3 separate regions of the Homo sapiens genome follow, and all the other regions are linked to region 3. Evidence: fine-mapped expression QTL. A gene starts in region 3. Each other region holds a variant in brackets. All regions are shown on one strand. Distances are from middle to middle.

Region 1 (5,230 bases), 120 kb after region 3:
GCTTCTTAGTTGAGATTCTGTGAGTTTATTATTTTCATCAAATTTGAATTTTTTGTCATTTTTTTCTTTAAATGCTGTTCCTATTTCCTATTCCCGCTTTTCTCTTTTTACTTCTCAGATTTTCTCTTCATTAGACTACTTGATACTGTCTCATAGGTCACTGATGCTCTGCTCAGTCTTTTTGAATGACTTTCTTTTTTCTTTTTTTTTTGAGACGGAGTCTCGCTCTGTCGCCCAGGCTGGAGTGCAGTGGCGAGATCTCGGCTCTCTGCAAGCTCCGCCTCCTGGGTTCACGCCATTCTCCTGCGTCAGCCTCCCGAGTAGCTGGGACTACAGGCACCCACCAGCACGCCCAGCTAATTTTTTGTATTTTTAGTAGAGACGGGGTTTCACTGTGTTAGCCAGGATGGTCTCGATCTCCTGACCCTGTGATCTGCCTGCCTCGGCCTCCCAAAGTGCTGGGATTACAGGCGTGAGCCACTGCACAGGTGACAGAAAGTCACCTGAATGACTTTCTGTACTTCATTTCGAGTAGTTTCTGTTGGTATGTCTTCATCTTTACTGTAGTGTCTATTCTGATGTAAATCTCATCCAATGTACTTTTTTCTTCTGATACTGCATTTTATTCTCTCTACAAATCCCATTTTGGTCTTTAAAATGTATTTTTCTTTTTTTCTTCAGCATATTCATGTTTTCCTTTATATCATTGAGAATATATTTTTATATTTATAAAGTAACTCAATTCATTTTCTGCTAATTCCATCATTTCTGTTATTTAGGGGCCTGTTTCTATTTATGAAATTGTTTCTTGGTTTGGGGTCACTTTTTCCTGCTTCTTTGCATGCCTGGTAATTTTTTATTGAGTGTTGGATATTGTAAGTTGTAATTTTTGGATGCTGGGTTTTGTTGTATTCCTTTATAAAATATTGAAATTGCTCTGCCATGCAGTTGAGCCACTTGGGATATTAGATCTTCTTGAGGCTTGCTTTTAAGTTTTGTTAGGGTGAGTCAAGAGGATCATTTAGTGTGGGGCTAATTTAGCCTGCTCCTGTGTGTTGCTAATGTCAAGACTTTATCCAGTGCCCTGTGTATTCTGTGTTTTTTCCACTCTGGAAGATGCAAACATGAACTATTCTTAGCCTTGTGGAGCTCCAGGATTTGTTCAGCTTATAGTTTTCTATTGATTATTGCCTTAGGAGTTTCACCTTACACATGCAGTGATTGTTACTTAGGTAAACACTCAAGGGTACCCTTCTGAAGATCTCTGGAATTCTCTTTCTTTGTGCAGCTCCATCTTCTGTGGTATTCTGCCCCAGAAAATCTAGACATTTTTGCCTCCCTGAATTCTGAGCTCTTTCTCTTCAATTTAGCAAGACTGTGGATCTCTGTTTGGGTTTCTCTCCCTGCTCTGCAGCCTGGAAACTCTTCACAAGTAACTGGGGCAATGGTAGGGCTCACTTTATTTCCCTTTCCTGAGTTCTTCACTACCTATTGTTCAGTATCCAAAAGGAGTTGTTTCATATATTTTGCCTGGTTTTCTAGTTGTTTATGGTTGGAAGAAAGTTTGCATAGAAGTGTCATTTGTGAGTAGAAGCAGAATTCTCCACTAGCTTTTAAATTCAATAACTTCTAAAATATTTCTATGTTTGATTTAGATTTCTTTCTTCATGGTCTTAAAAGAACACCTTTTTTTTCCCTCAATTTTGATACCTTTTTGTTTTTTTCTCGATAATATAAAGCATACTTATTCATATCACATGGATATTTTCATAGTAATATTATATAACACATCACTCGAAAACTCACTGGCCTAAAACAAAAATCGCATATTTTTATGAATCTGTTGACTGGCTGGAACTAGGCTGGGCTTTGCTGGGGGCCTCTGCCTAAAACTGGGGCAGCTGATGTGGCTCCACTTTTCACTGTAGATCTGTGGTCAGTTGGGGCAGCTCTGCTTCTAGCGTTCATTCGGGGCCCTGGCTGAAAGGCAGCAGCCACCCCGAGGAAGTTCTTCTTGTGATGATCGCAGAGGCACAAAAGAACAAACAGAAACACTCAGTCTTCTTAAGGCTGAGTCTGGGAATCGTCCATGGCCCCTTCCTCCTCAAGTCATTTGCCAAAACAAGGCACCTAGCCAAGCTCTAAGTTGAAAGGCGTAAAAGTATACTCTG[C/T]CTACAGTGGGGCTAGGGCAAGGGTGTGGATGCAGGGGAGGATAAAGTATTGAAACCAGTAATTCAAACTATTACATAAATTTTCTTTCTATTTATTTATTTATTTATTTATTTATTTATTTATTTATTTAGAGACAGAGTCTCTCTCTGTCACCCAGGCTGGAGTACAATGGCACGATCTTGGCTCACTGTAAACTCTGCCTCCCAGGTTCAAGCGATTCTCGTGTTTCAGCCTCCCAAGTAGCTGGGATTACAGGCGTGCACCACCACGCCTGGCTAATTTTTGTATTTTTAGTAGAGACGGGGTTTCACCATATTGGCCAGGCTGGTCTCAAACTCCTGACCTTAAGTAATCTGACCGCCTCAGCCTCCCAAAGTGCTGTGATTATAGGTGTGAGCCACCGTGCCTGGCTTATTACATGAATTTAAAATCCTGACCAATGGTTCAATGACTTGAAGTGTTTGGAAGTGAAATTCTTCCGTATATTGTTTTTGCATACTTCCATTCATGGTGCATTATTTTCTGGTGTATTTTGTCATTTTGGATTGGTGTTCAGATATGGTAGGCCTTTTAGAAATGGAACTTCCATGTGGCCTGGCTTGAGGAAACATCCCTCAAGAATAATTTTTTGTCGGTCTCTTCCAGGTACCCTAAGGTTCGCATTAGCCAGGGACTCTTTATTACGTTAATTTCTCAGGTTGGAGGTATGTGGACATTGCAAGGAGTAGAAAATTGAACCCTAGGCTGGGAACAGGGGCTCACACCTGTAATCCCAGCACTTTGGGAGGCCGAGGCGGGTGGATCACCTGAGGTTAGGAGTTTAACACCAGCCTGGACAACATAGTGAAATCCCGTCTCTACAAAAATACAAAAATTAGCTGGGCGTGATGGTGGGTGCCTGCAATCCCAGCTATTTAGGAGACTGAGGTGGGAGAATAGCTTGAACCCAGGAGGAAGAGGTTGCAGTGAGCTGAGATCACGCCATTGCACTACAGCCTGGGTGACAGAGCAAGACTCCGTCTCAAAAAAAAGACTCAAGTCTCAAAAAAAAAAAAAAAAGAAAGAAAAAAGAAAAAAGAAAAAGAAAATTGAACTCTATATCATGTAGAGCAGTGGTTACCAAATCTCAGGTGAGGCATATTTCCTCCTACTAGAACCAGGGCTGAGAGAGACGGATAGTGTACTGGCTTTATGCAGGAGCCTCAGTTTAACCTCCTCAGGTGGGCCCAAAGCCTTGTGCCTTATTCCTACATCATCATTAAAAGCCAACCCCTTGTTACCAAAAGCAGGACAACAAAAAGCATTGGTAGGCCAGGCACGGTGATTCACGCCTGTAATCCCAGCACTCTGGGAGGCTGAGGCAGATAGATCACTTGAGGCCAGGAATTTGAGACCAGCCTGGCCAACATGGTGAAACCCTGTCTCTACTAAAAATACAAAAAATTAGCCAAGTGTGGTGGTGCACACCTGTAATCCTAGCTACTCGGGAGGCTGAGGCACGACAATTACTTGAAGTCAGGAGGTGGAGGTTGCAGTGAGCCAAGATTGCACCACTGCACACCAGCCTGGGTGACAGAGTGAGACTGTCTCAGACAAAAACACACATGACAACAACAACAACAACAAAAAAGCATTGGTACCCACATATTCATTTTAGTTTTAATTTCCTCTTTAGTTTTGTTGCCTTTATTTTTAGCTCGGTGCTACACTTGAAAAGTTGCTTGTAAAAATTTACCCAGCATTTCTTTATTTTTTTGTCTTCAACTTTTATTTTAAGTTCAGCGGTACATGTGCAGGATGTGGTTTGTTACGTAGGTGAACATGTGCCATGGTGATTTGCTGCACAGATCATCCCATCACCTAGGTATTAAGCCCAGCATTCATTGGCTATTCTTCCTGATGCTCTCCCTCCCCAGCACCCCTCACAGGCCACAGTGTGTGTCAGTCCCTCCTTGGGTGTCCATGTGTTCTCATCATTCACTTCCCACTTATAAGTGAGAACATGTGGTGTTTGGTTTTCTGTTCCTGTGGTAGTTTGCTGAAGATAATGGCTTCCAACTCCATCCATGTCCCTGCAAAGGACGTGATCTCATTCCTTTTTATGGCTGCATAGTATTCCACGATGTATATGTACCACATTTTCTTTATTCAGTCTATCATTGAGTGGCGTTTAGGTTGATTCCATGTCTTTGCTATTATGAATAGTGCTGCAATGAACATATACATGCATGTATCTTTATAATAAAACAATGTATATTCCTTTGGGTATGTACCCAGTAATAAGACTGCTGTTTACCCAGTATCTCTATCTGTTTTGTATAGTGAGTTTTCTCAGGTTCTCTCATTAGCTATTTTGCGATTTTGTATATGATCTTCTCTTTTCCTGGATTACTCCCAATATCCACTTACACTTTAGGCTCCATTTCTTCTGAATCCTCTGGTAAATTAGATATTCTTCTTCTTCTTTCTCGTGGGGAAATTATTTTCCTTCATAGCGTGTTTATATTTTGTGATCTTATATGCTTATTTAACTTCTGCTTTTCCCATTAGACTCTCAGCTCCTCATAGACAGAGACCAGATCTGTGTTGTTTTCTACTAATTCCCAGAGCTTAGTACAATGCTTAGAACATAACAGGCCCTCTGTAAGTATTTGTTGAATGAATAGTCGTGATATTTGGAAATACCACTTGTCATTACTGTCATGTATGTGACATTATGTTAGTCAAAGTACTTTTAAGTATGGTTTCCAAAAGCTTGCTACTTGCCTGCGTTAAGACTGTTCTAGTCTCTGTTCTGGTCAACCTGTTAATGAATGATTGGATAATGACATGTATGGACTGTGTCAGAGAATTATACAAGCTTTTTACCAGTCAAGACTCTTGGTTGAAAGCAATAGAAATGGACTCTGATTAATTTAAACAGAAAAGGAATTTAATTGAAAAGGTATTATATAACTTGTACAACTGATGGGAAGATGGAATTAGGTTTGAACAGGATCCAAGAAAGGAAAAGCCCAGTTGCTATAGTTTGAATGTTTGTGTCCCCTCTAAAGTTTGT
Region 2 (5,230 bases), 38 kb after region 3:
GTCAAATTAGTCTCTATTATTATTGTTACTTTTTATATTATTAGCTCTTGATTGTATGTACTCACATCTCTACCTTTTTTACTCCTCACTTTACCTCCTTACATCTCATTGTTTCCTCCTAAAGTATATTCTTTAGTAATTTTTTCAGTGAATATCTGTTAGTAGCAAACTTGGACTTTAACAAAAAATATATTTTACCCATACTGTTTGATACAGTTTAGCTTATTGTGGGAATTCTAGCTTAACATTTATTTTCTCTAAGTGTTTTGAAGATATTCTTTTGTCATCTGTCTGTTGTTGCCGTTAAGGAGTCTGCTATCATCCTGATTGTCTTTGTAGGTAGTTTTAATTTCTCTCAGGTTGCTGTTGAGATCTTGCTTTGATTTTATTGTTCTGCAGTTTTGCTATGATATATTCATGTGTGTGCTCCATAGGTCTGTGGATTCATGTTTTTCATCAATTCTGGAAAATTCTCTCATGGTATAGTTTGCATAGTATATCTTTTCCCCATTCTTTTACTTTCAACTGTTTGTGTTTCAGATTTAAGGTATGTCTCCTGTAGACAGCATCTAATGGTTTTTTTTTTTTTTTTGCTTTATCTTATCACTATGCCTTTTGAATGAGTGTTTTTGTCCATTCATGTTTTATTTTATTTATTTAATTTGTTTTTGAGGAAGGGTCTTGCTCTGTCATTAAGCTACAAGGTAGTGGTGTGAACATGGCTCACTGCAGCCTTGACCTCCCAGGCTCAATCAATCCTCCCACCTCAGTTCCCCAAGTAGCTGGAACTAGAGACACATACCACCATGCCTGGCTAATTTTTGTATTTCTTGTAGAGATGGGGCTTCACTATGTTGCCCAGGCTGGTCTCAAAACTTCTGAGCTCAAGTGATCCACCCACCTTGGCCTCCCAAAGTTCTGGGATTACAGGCATGAGCCACCATGCCAGACCTTCACATCTTAATGTGGTTATTGATGTGGTTGGACTGTCATATTATTTTTTGATCCTCTGTTCCTTCTTTACTGTCTTCTTTTGTATTAAATCAATAAATATTTTAGTGTACCATTTATATTTATTTGTTAATTTTTTACTATACAATTTGAGTTACTTTCTTAGTGATTGCACTAGGAATTACAATGTATATCTTAGCTTATCAAAATATAATTATGGTAAAATATAGGAGCATTGCTCTAATATAACTCATTTTCCCCCTTTTTGCTATTACTGTCATATATTACCTATATATGTTTTAAACCTAACACTTGTTATAAACCAACATTGGTATTATAATAAGTGCTTTGTGTAATCTTACATCTTTTAAAGAAGTTAAGAGAGGAAGTGAGGAAAATATATTTATAGAGGCTCTTGTATTTACTCACATATTTACCATTTCTGGTGCTCTTTATTTCTTCTTCTGTATTTGAGTTACCATTGGCTATTACTTTATTTTCCCTTTAGCCTGAAGGACTTCCATTAGTGCTTCTCATAATATAAGTCTCCTGGCAATAAATTATTCAGTCTACATTTATCTGGAAATGTTTTTATTTTTACTTCATCTTGGAAGAATAGTTTTGCTGGATATAAAATTCCTGGCTGACAGTTATTTTTCTTTCAGCACTTAGAATATACCACTCCACTGCCTTCTGGTGTTCATTGTTTTTTTTTTTTTTTTTTTTTGAGACGGAGTCTCGCTCTGTCGCCCAGGCCGGACTGCGGACTGCAGTGGCGCAATCTCGGCTCACTGCAAGCTCCGCTTCCCGGGTTCACGCCATTCTCCTGCCTCAGCCTCCCGAGTAGCTGGGACTACAGGCGCCCGCCACCGCGCCCGGCTAATTTTTTGTATTTTTAGTAGAGACGGGGTTTCACCTTGTTAGCCAGGATGGTCTCGATCTCCTGACCTCATGATCCACCCACCTCGGCCTCCCAAAGTGCTGGGATTACAGGCGTGAGCCACCGCGCCCGGCCGTGTGTTCATTGTTTTTGATGAAAAGTGAGTTGTTTCCCTCTATGTGATGAATTGTTTTTCTTGTGCTGCTATTAAGATTTTCTGTTTTCAGCTTTCAACATTTTGACTGTAATTTGTGTGAATATAGATCTCTTAGTGTTTAACCTACTTTAGGTTCATTGAGCTTCTTTGATCTCTAATGTTTTTTGTTTTTTAATTAAATTTGGTAGGTAGGCACAGTAGTGGGCACCTGTAGCCCTAGCCACTTGGGAAGTGGAGGCAGTAGGATTGCTTTAGCCCAAGAGTTTGACCTGTAGTGCACTATGTTATGATTGTGCCTGTGAATAGCCACTGCACTGAAGCCTGGGCAACATAGTGAGACCTCATCTCTAAAAAAAACAAAAACAAAAAACGAGAACAAAAACAAAAGGAAAGTTTTTGGCTATTGTCTCTCCAAATATTTTTTTCTGCCCTATCTCTTCCTTTTCCTCTTTTTTTCCCCTCCTCCTTCTGGAACTCCCATCACATGCATGGTGCTATGCTTGATGTTGTCCCATAGGCCTCTGAGGCTGTGTTCATTTCTGTTTAATATTTTTTCTCTCCATTATTCATATTGGATAATTTATACAGATCCATCTTCATGTTTACTGA[T/A]CATTTATTATGGTGAGCTCCTCTACTGAATTTTTAATTTCAGTTACCCTACTCTTCAGCTCCAGAATTTCCATTTGTTCCTTTATTTAATCTCTCTCTCTTTGTTGTGATTTGTATTCATGAAGTCATTGTTGTCATGCTTTCCTTTAAATCTTTAAGCATGGTTTCCTTTAATTCTTTGATATATTTATAATAGCTGCCTTGTAGTCTTTGTCTGATAAAAGCAACATTTGGGGATATGCATACCTTCTTGTTTATTTGCATGTTTCATAATTTTTTGTTAAATACTGAACATTTTAGATAATATATTGTAGTAATTCTAGATTATGTTTTCCTCTTGAAGATTGTTATTGCTTTGTTTGTTAATCCCTGAATGAAATCTGTGAAATCTGTCTTCCCTACAACATGTGGCCTCTGATGTTTCCATTCAGTTTTATTTCCTTCTTATTTTTATTTTAAGCCTTGTTTCTTAGGGGTTTCCCCCATATCTGCATAGCTTAGTGTTCAGCCAGAGATTTTTCGGAGGTTGTGCTCAAGAACCTCAAGCTAGTTAGACTTTGTGTCTGCCTATAGTTCTATGTGTGAGCTGGGGAGGGCAAAGTTCAGGTTGTTTTCAAACCTACCCTGGCTTTTACTCTTCACCAGACTCTTTTATTTCCCCTGCACACATATATAAGCTCCATTGGCTAGGGATGTGTGGGTGGCTCAGGCTTCTCTGGTCTCTGCTGTGCATTCACCCAGCTTCGAGTTAACCCAAGATATGTGGAGAGCTTATCAAACTCCCTTGGTCTGTCTCACTCCCTGGAATTTTCTGATAAATTCCTGGTTAGTTTGCCAGTCCATTGTTTGGCCCAAACATTGCTGAAACCCAGCCTAACAGTGCTTCTGGCCTTTCCTGTTCTTGATATTATAACTGACAATGCCCCAAATTAAGTGGAGCCCTCTGGCAGAGGCAGTGAAGCAGCTGATTTTTCACAGGCGGCACCACGTTTGTTGAAGTATTGCAACTGATAGCATTGGGAGCCTGGTGAACGAGAGCAGCCTCAGGCAAGAATACTATAGAGTCGTGCTATTCTTACCCAAAGTCCAGTAATTTTTATGAATACATGTTTCTTTGTTGTATGTCTTTGATTGATTTGCAGAGTGATAAAATGGTGGGTTTTGACAGTTTGTCCTGCTTTAGAGTCGTATTTTCTTCTGTTCTCAGTTTTATCTTTTAAGCTTGGAACTTTTAAACATCATTTAAAAGTTATTTTATTTTAGCTAAGGTAGCACTGGCTGCTTTAACAGAGAAATCTTGAATTCTCAATGGCTTAACTCAATAAAAGTTAGTTTTTGTTTATGTCACAATTTGTATTTTCTATTGCTATGTAAGTTATCCCCAAATGTAGTATCTTTAAACAACAAATATTTATTATCTCACAGTTTCTGTGGATCAGGAATCTGAGTGCAGCCTGGCTGGGTGCGACTGGGTCAAGTGTCTCACAAAGTTGCAATCAAGGTGTTGGCCAAGGCTGCAGCATCTCAAGGCTTCACTGGGTGAAGATCTGCTTCCATGCTCACTCACATGGCTGTTGGCAGGCTACAGATCCTTGCTGGCTACTAACCAGGGACATCAATTTCTTCTATGTGAGACTCACTACAGGGCTACTCACAGCATAGCAGCTTGCCTCCCCCAGAGCAAAGGCTTTGAGAGAAAGAGAATAAGAAAAGGTGTCTAAGATGGAAGCCACAGTCTGTTTGTAACCTAATCTCAGAAGTGATATCCCATTGTATCTGCCATATTCTATTCATTAGAAGTGGGCCAATAAGTCTGGTCCACACTCATGAGAAAGGGATTACACAAGGGTGTGAGTTCCAGGAGATGGAGATCATTAGGAGCTATTTCAGAGGCTGTCTCCCACATAATACACTCACCTTCAATGGAAATTTATCTGTGAGAAGCATGAGCAGCTTGGGTTAGGAGTGAGTTCCCCAGGAAATATTTTGCAGTTGCTTCTGTTGGAATATGCCTGGTTTGGAACTATTTTATGCTAATTTTTAATTTTAGGGGTGTGGCCCATGAAGGTTCATGCAGATACACTGTACCGTGGCTGTGTGAGGACCAGCTTGTAGGTACAGATTCTTAGGGGATTTGCCTCTTTTCCCTTCCCGCCATCCCTGTACTTCAGACCAGCTTCCTTGTCATCAGCCTGTGGTGATGACTAATTTTTTTATTCTAGTCTACATTTTCATCAAAGGTTTCACTTTTCCTAACTTTATGCAGGTTCTCCTTTCCAATTCCACGCTTCATGTGGGCCCAAAGCCTTCCTCCTATGCCCAAGTGGGTGTTAAAACCTAAGCCTTTACCAAAACGCTGAGACCAACAGCCCCTGCCCCCACCTCCCGCCTCCACTGGGCTGTTTGCAGCATTGGCTCACACAGTTAATATTCTGATTTTCCAGTCTCCTCTTTGCTTTTGTCCCCTGGGGACTTATCTCGCTTTCTTGTGAGCTCAGCTATGCATATAAAGCAACATTTGTTATATTTCATCCAATGTTTTGAAATGGGAGAGTTTTCTAAAGGTTATCTAAACTAAATAACACAAGTAAAGTATACACGATGTTGCCTGGCCCCCTGTTGGACCCACCAAC
Region 3 (5,230 bases):
CTTTTTGTGCTTCTTTGACTGTCCTCTTCACCTAGGCAGAGCTAGGCCCAGGGTGAGCCCCTTGTCCAAAAATTATTAACAATTTTAAGACAGTGACAGCAGAATATTCTACCAAGAGTGATGCCTTTCTACATGTGGGGCTCTGTACGACTGCACAGGTCACACTCCCATGAAGCTGGCCCTGATAGTAATTATTGGTTTACATCTCCATCTCCCTTATTAATCAGTTATTAATCACTGGATGGCTATGGGAGAACACTGTCTAAGGTAAGCCTGTCTGATTAACCTGTATGCCCCCAAGAGGCTAGCAAGGTGCCAGGTATAATCAGTAAAGGGTTGTTGAATGAACAAATGAAAATAACATTATGTTCTCAATTCTAAAATGCACCAACTCTAATAGCTTTAACAGAAAGGTAAGAAGAGCCATATTAAATGTCCCTGTTTATTGTAAGATGCTTTCCAGTTTCAGAATAGTTTACAAAATACAGGTCTTAGAACTGCGAAAACACGGTGGTGCTTTTTAACATCCTCTATCACGGCTGTTCTTTTTTTTTTTTTTTTTTTTTTTGAGACGGAGTTCCAGGCAGGAGTGCAATGGTGCAATCTCTGCTCACTGCAACCTCTGCCTCCCGGATTCAAGTGATTCGCCTGCCTCAGCCTCTGAGTAGCTGGGATTACAGGCGCCCAACACCACACCGGGCTAATTTTTGTATTTCGGGTAGAGACAGGGTTTCACCATGTTGGCCAGGCTGATCTCGAACTCCCGACCTCAGGTGATCCGTCTGCCTTAGCCTCCCAAAGTGCTGGGATTACAGGCGTGAGCCACTGTGCCCGGCCGTCAGCTCATCCTTTTTTTTTTTTTTCTTTAAGACTGAATCTGGCTCTGTTGCCCAGGCTGCAGTGTGGCACAGTCTCAGCTCACTGCAACCTGTGCCTCCCGGGTTCAAGCAATTCTCCTGCCTCAGCCTCCTGAGTAGCTGGGATTACAGGCACGTGCCACTGCACTCGGCTAATTTTTTGTAATTTTAGTAGAGACGGGATTTTACCATGTTGGCCAGGCTGGTGTTGAACTCCTGACCTCAGGTAATCCACCCGCCTTGGCCTCCCAAAGTGCTAGGATTATAAGCATGAGCCACTGCGCTCGGCCCAACGGCTGTTCTTATGCTCCACGGAAAGTGAGATGTTTCCTTCAGTTCTAAAGTGGGTTCCTGGGAACAACTTTCTTATTTTCATGACATCTGCTCTTGACTGAACCCTGGGCTGGAAATGGTCTGCAACCTCACTTCATGATTGAAGAGACAATGAACCGTTCTTGTGAGCAGCAGGGTAGGTGACCAATCTACTAGTCTCTTACCAGACTTCTAGGTATCCCTTGGGAAGAGGGCTCTCCAAGCCCCTTATGTTATTTAATGTAATGTGGCATCTTAAAACATCATCTCCCTGGGGAAAAGAGGTCTTGGCTCCCAGTTCTAGCTCTTCTGGGCCTTTGGCTTCTCCTTTCCGTGCCTCACTTTCCCCTTTATACAGGGAGGAGAGCCGGTGGCCCCACAAGGAAACAGAGAGCAGGGAGTTGTTGGGGTGCGGGGTGGGGGCCGTTGAATCAGAACAACTCCAAGGTATGTTCCTAGAGAGGTGGGCAGTCTCAAGCCTCCCAAGCCCACACCTCACCATCCCAAGCTTTCAAGACCGGAAAAGGTAGAGGAGGGAAGAGGGCTTTAAGGATGCCCACTGAACCTCCACCCCCAACTTTCAGCGCCGGAGGCAGTGTTTCCTCACACCTACCCTGGAAAGCCGGAATCCGGAGCCACCCCTTCCCCCACGTCTTCAGCCCCTCCCCCTGCGGCTTCCCCACCGTGGCCCCCTCCCCCCCATTACAGCATCGCTCTGGGCGCCAAGACGGATTCAAGCCAGGGGACTGCTGCAGTCCGCTCTCCGCCTCTCGGCTCCCGCAGCCTGTGTCCGGGCTCCGCAGCCTCCAGCTGTGCTTCGGACAGTCCCTTTCCCCCCACCCCGACCCCGCCATGGCACAATCCCAGGCTCAGGGCCCAGAGGCGGGCGGGCACAGTGGGCACGGGCGGGGGCCCAGCACAGGCGGCAGGTACAGCGGGGCTCTCCCTCCACACTGGGGATGCCTCGGCTGTGCGGACTGTGGGTGGGGGACGCCTGCCAGCGGCTCCGAGGCCGGGCACAGCGCCCCATCCTGGCAGGGGCTGGGGCCGAAGAGGGGGGCTCCCTGACCCCAAGCCAGGAGCTGAGGTCAGGCGGCCGACCGGGAAAGCCCGAAGGAGAGTCTCCTAAGCGGACGGGCCTGGGGGCTGTGTGTGACATTCAGGGCGTGACTGCCCCTCGGCGGGGGGCGAGACCCGGTCCGTGAGGCTGAGCTGGTCCCCGACCGCCCGCCCGCCGCCGGGCTTGGGTCCCTGTACCCAGGTCGGCTGTGCGTGGCCGTGACACTTCGGGTGCCTGTTCCTGGGTCCCCGGGGAGGGGGATCTCATTCCTGCCCCTACGCTGGGCGCCCCCAGCACCGTCGCTCAGCGAGGTGGGCGCTCCTCCGGGACCCCGGCGGCCGCCCGCGGGCGGCGACCTCGGCCCTCCTGGGTCCGCGCGGGGGCGGGGAGCTCGGTCCCCCTCCCTCTTCCTCTCCCTCTCCCTCTCCCTGCTCGGCTGCCCTGCGCGGGGGCGGGGGCGGGGGCGGAGCGCGCGGGCGGGATCCCCCCGCCTCCCCTTCCCGGTCCCCGGGAAATCCAGCCTCCGTGGCTTGGCCGCCTCCCGCTCCCGCGCCCGCTGCCGCTCGGCGCTCGCTTGGGGCTCCGCAGCCGGCGCGGCCCCTCAGCTGGGGGCTCCGCAGTGCCGGGCCCCGGTCCCTGCCCGCCTGCCCAACGCCGCAGCGCCCCCGGCCCGGGCCGCCGGCACCATGTAACCCGGCCGGAGCCCGAGCCGGGCCAGGTAAGCCGCGGGGAGGAGTGGGGACGGGGCCGCGCTCGCGGCTCCCTCTGCAGCGCCCCCCAGGCACGGCCCGGCTGCGGCCCCGGCGCCGCCCACGCCCCGGGCTCCGGCGCTCGGCTCCCGGCCCCGGGAGGGGGGAGGGGCTGGGCCTCCTCAGCTGCCCCCGCTCCTGCCCCGGCCTGGCTGCCCGCGGGCCCGACCCGAGGGGCGGGCAGGGGACCACGCGGACCGCGGACCCACGCTCCCGGTCAGGGCCGCGGGGACAGGCCAGCCCCGGCCCAGCCCTCGCCCGGCTGGAGGCTCGGGTCTGGGAGGGAGTAGCCAGCTGGTTGTGGGGGAAGTCGTGGTGCTGGGGAGATCCGGAGAGAAGTTTCCTCTGCAGGTGTGTGAATGTGAGTGCGTGTCGCTGTGTGTCTGTGCCGAGTGTGTCACTGTGTGGGTCTGTGGGCGATTGTGTGTGCCGGTGAGTGTATGCCGTGAGTGTGTGCGTGTGTCACTGTGGGCGAGAGTGTGTGTGCATGTTAGTGGGTGTATGCAGCGTGAGTGTGGAGGGTGGTACTGTGTATGCATCTGTGGACATGTGAGTGAATGAGTGTGTGTTGTCCCCATGTGTGCCTGTGTGTGTCTGTGAGTGTGTGAATGGATGTGTGTGCCGGCGTGACTGTCTCTGTGAGTGGGTCCCGGTATCTGCCCTGTGTGACTGTGTGTGTGTGTGTGTGCGTGTGCGCGCGCGTGCGTTGGCTGTGTGAGAGAGAGTGTATCTGAGCGCGGTTCACTCTGAATCACCCACACCTGGGCTCTGTCCCCCCCACTGTCCCCCCATTCCTGGTGGGATATGGGACAGGGAGATGAGACTTTTCCGAGGTCAGATCATTCCCCACTTCTCTGGGGACCCCTGACCCTTGATTCAGGCAAGAGCTTTGTGGCACTCCCCAGCTTGGTCTCTACCTTCACCTACCTCAGGGGGTGCCCTCTGGGATGTTGCTGGTCGTGTCCTTCCTGCATGCTAAGGCCCCTGGTGGGTGGGAGGGGGGATCTGGGGCGAGCTGGAGTATGTGCCTGCGTGTGCTGCTTCTCCTTTTGGGGGCCTGGGAACTTGTGTCATCTCAATAATGTTTCACCAAGGGCCTTTTAGAGCTAGGAGATGAGGAGGCCAGGTGGAAGCGTCTGCCCTGTTAGTCATCAGAGCAGGTGGCGCTCTCCCAGACTTCCAAGTCCCAAACCTTCAAGTTCTGGGTTATTGGTTCAGTCCACTGGCTCCGGGTGGGTCTGTACTAAGCTCTTTGAAGTAATAATAATAAAATAATGCCCTCATATTAGTTCAGGGCTTTTGAAAATGCTGCCCTCTGAACTCTTCTTATTTCCCCAACAGCCTTGGGAAGCAGGCAGGACAGGTATCACGTTAAGCCATATGCAACTGCAATATTCAACTGTTTTTATTTAACCTACAAAAACAGCAATTTCATATGGTTCAACCAAATATAATGCCGATTTACAGATGAAGATGTTGAGGCTTGAGAAATGAATTGCATTTTCCACAACCACACACTGCTAGTTAGTGGTACAGAAAGACCTCAGCCCAGGTCTTTCAGTGACCCAAAGAACTGGGCTGGGCCAAGGTTAGAGAGTGGTACTTCCTGGTGTGCTCTCTCTGACCCTGGGGGCACTGCCCTCTACCACTGCGCAGCATTCCCTGAATGCTGGGGCTACTTCTGCACCCAGCTGCCAATGCCTAAAAGAGTGGGGGGTGGGGGGAGAAGAGAGGAGGGAGGGGAGGGAGAGGCTTCGTGAGTTGGCAGTGAATCAGGGTCTAAAAAGGGAGCTGGGAGGGCTAGGGTGGCAGGTGTTTCTAAAAGGAACATGAACATAGGATGAACGGCCTCACATACAGCCCCCGCATCTCCCACCCGCCACTGCCCCACTGATCTGGCAGGCAGGGCCCGCTGAGTTTTGTGCCAGGGGGCTCACATCCAACGAGTGAGCTTGTATGTAGCTGTAGAATGATGGCCAGGAGAGGAACCTTAGTATTGACTTGGTCCAACCTCTTCATTACAAACCGGGGACTCTGAAGCCCCAAGAAGGGAGGGGACTTGCCCAAGGTCACACAACGAATTTGTGAGTTCCTAGGCTAATCTTAGACGAGGAACTTTGCAATCCTCCATGTTGCCTTCTATTCCTGAACTCTCCCCACCCCCATCAGAGCTGAGTACAGGGGATTTTTGGAAAAGAAATGAAGACTCAAAAAGCCTAAGGCTGTACATCTTTCAGCTTGGGACTCCTTGC

Which allele goes with the higher level. Alleles are on the strand shown, and positions count from the first base shown. SD is a standard deviation of normalised expression in the study named. Not every link is listed here.
In carriers of allele A in region 2, the expression in whole blood of the gene that starts at base 2,748 in region 3 tends to be higher than with T alone (large effect, 1.1 SD a copy in GTEx).

The links. PIP is the estimated chance that this variant, and not a neighbour inherited with it, causes the effect.
Region 1: its variant is the best candidate, but not a certain one, in a credible set for the expression of DLGAP3 in lung (TOPMed, PIP 0.51).
Region 2: its variant is the best candidate, but not a certain one, in a credible set for the expression of DLGAP3 in whole blood (GTEx, PIP 0.90).

What each region holds. Positions count from the first base shown.
Region 1 is chr1:34,810,017-34,815,246 of GRCh38, reverse strand. No RefSeq gene overlaps it. Among named protein-coding and RNA genes, the nearest start is that of GJA4, 20 kb to the right of the region's middle. The variant C/T (reference allele first, on the strand shown) is at 2,172.
Region 2 is chr1:34,889,627-34,894,856 of GRCh38, reverse strand. All of the region lies in intron 5 of DLGAP3 (DLG associated protein 3), which reads left to right. Among named protein-coding and RNA genes, the nearest start is that of SMIM12, 32 kb to the right of the region's middle. The variant T/A (reference allele first, on the strand shown) is at 2,598.
Region 3 is chr1:34,927,168-34,932,397 of GRCh38, reverse strand. It overlaps DLGAP3 (DLG associated protein 3), which reads left to right and starts at 2,748. Exons shown (of 12, transcript NM_001080418.3): 1 at 2,748-2,947. RefSeq lists silencers at 2,140-2,189, 3,170-3,239.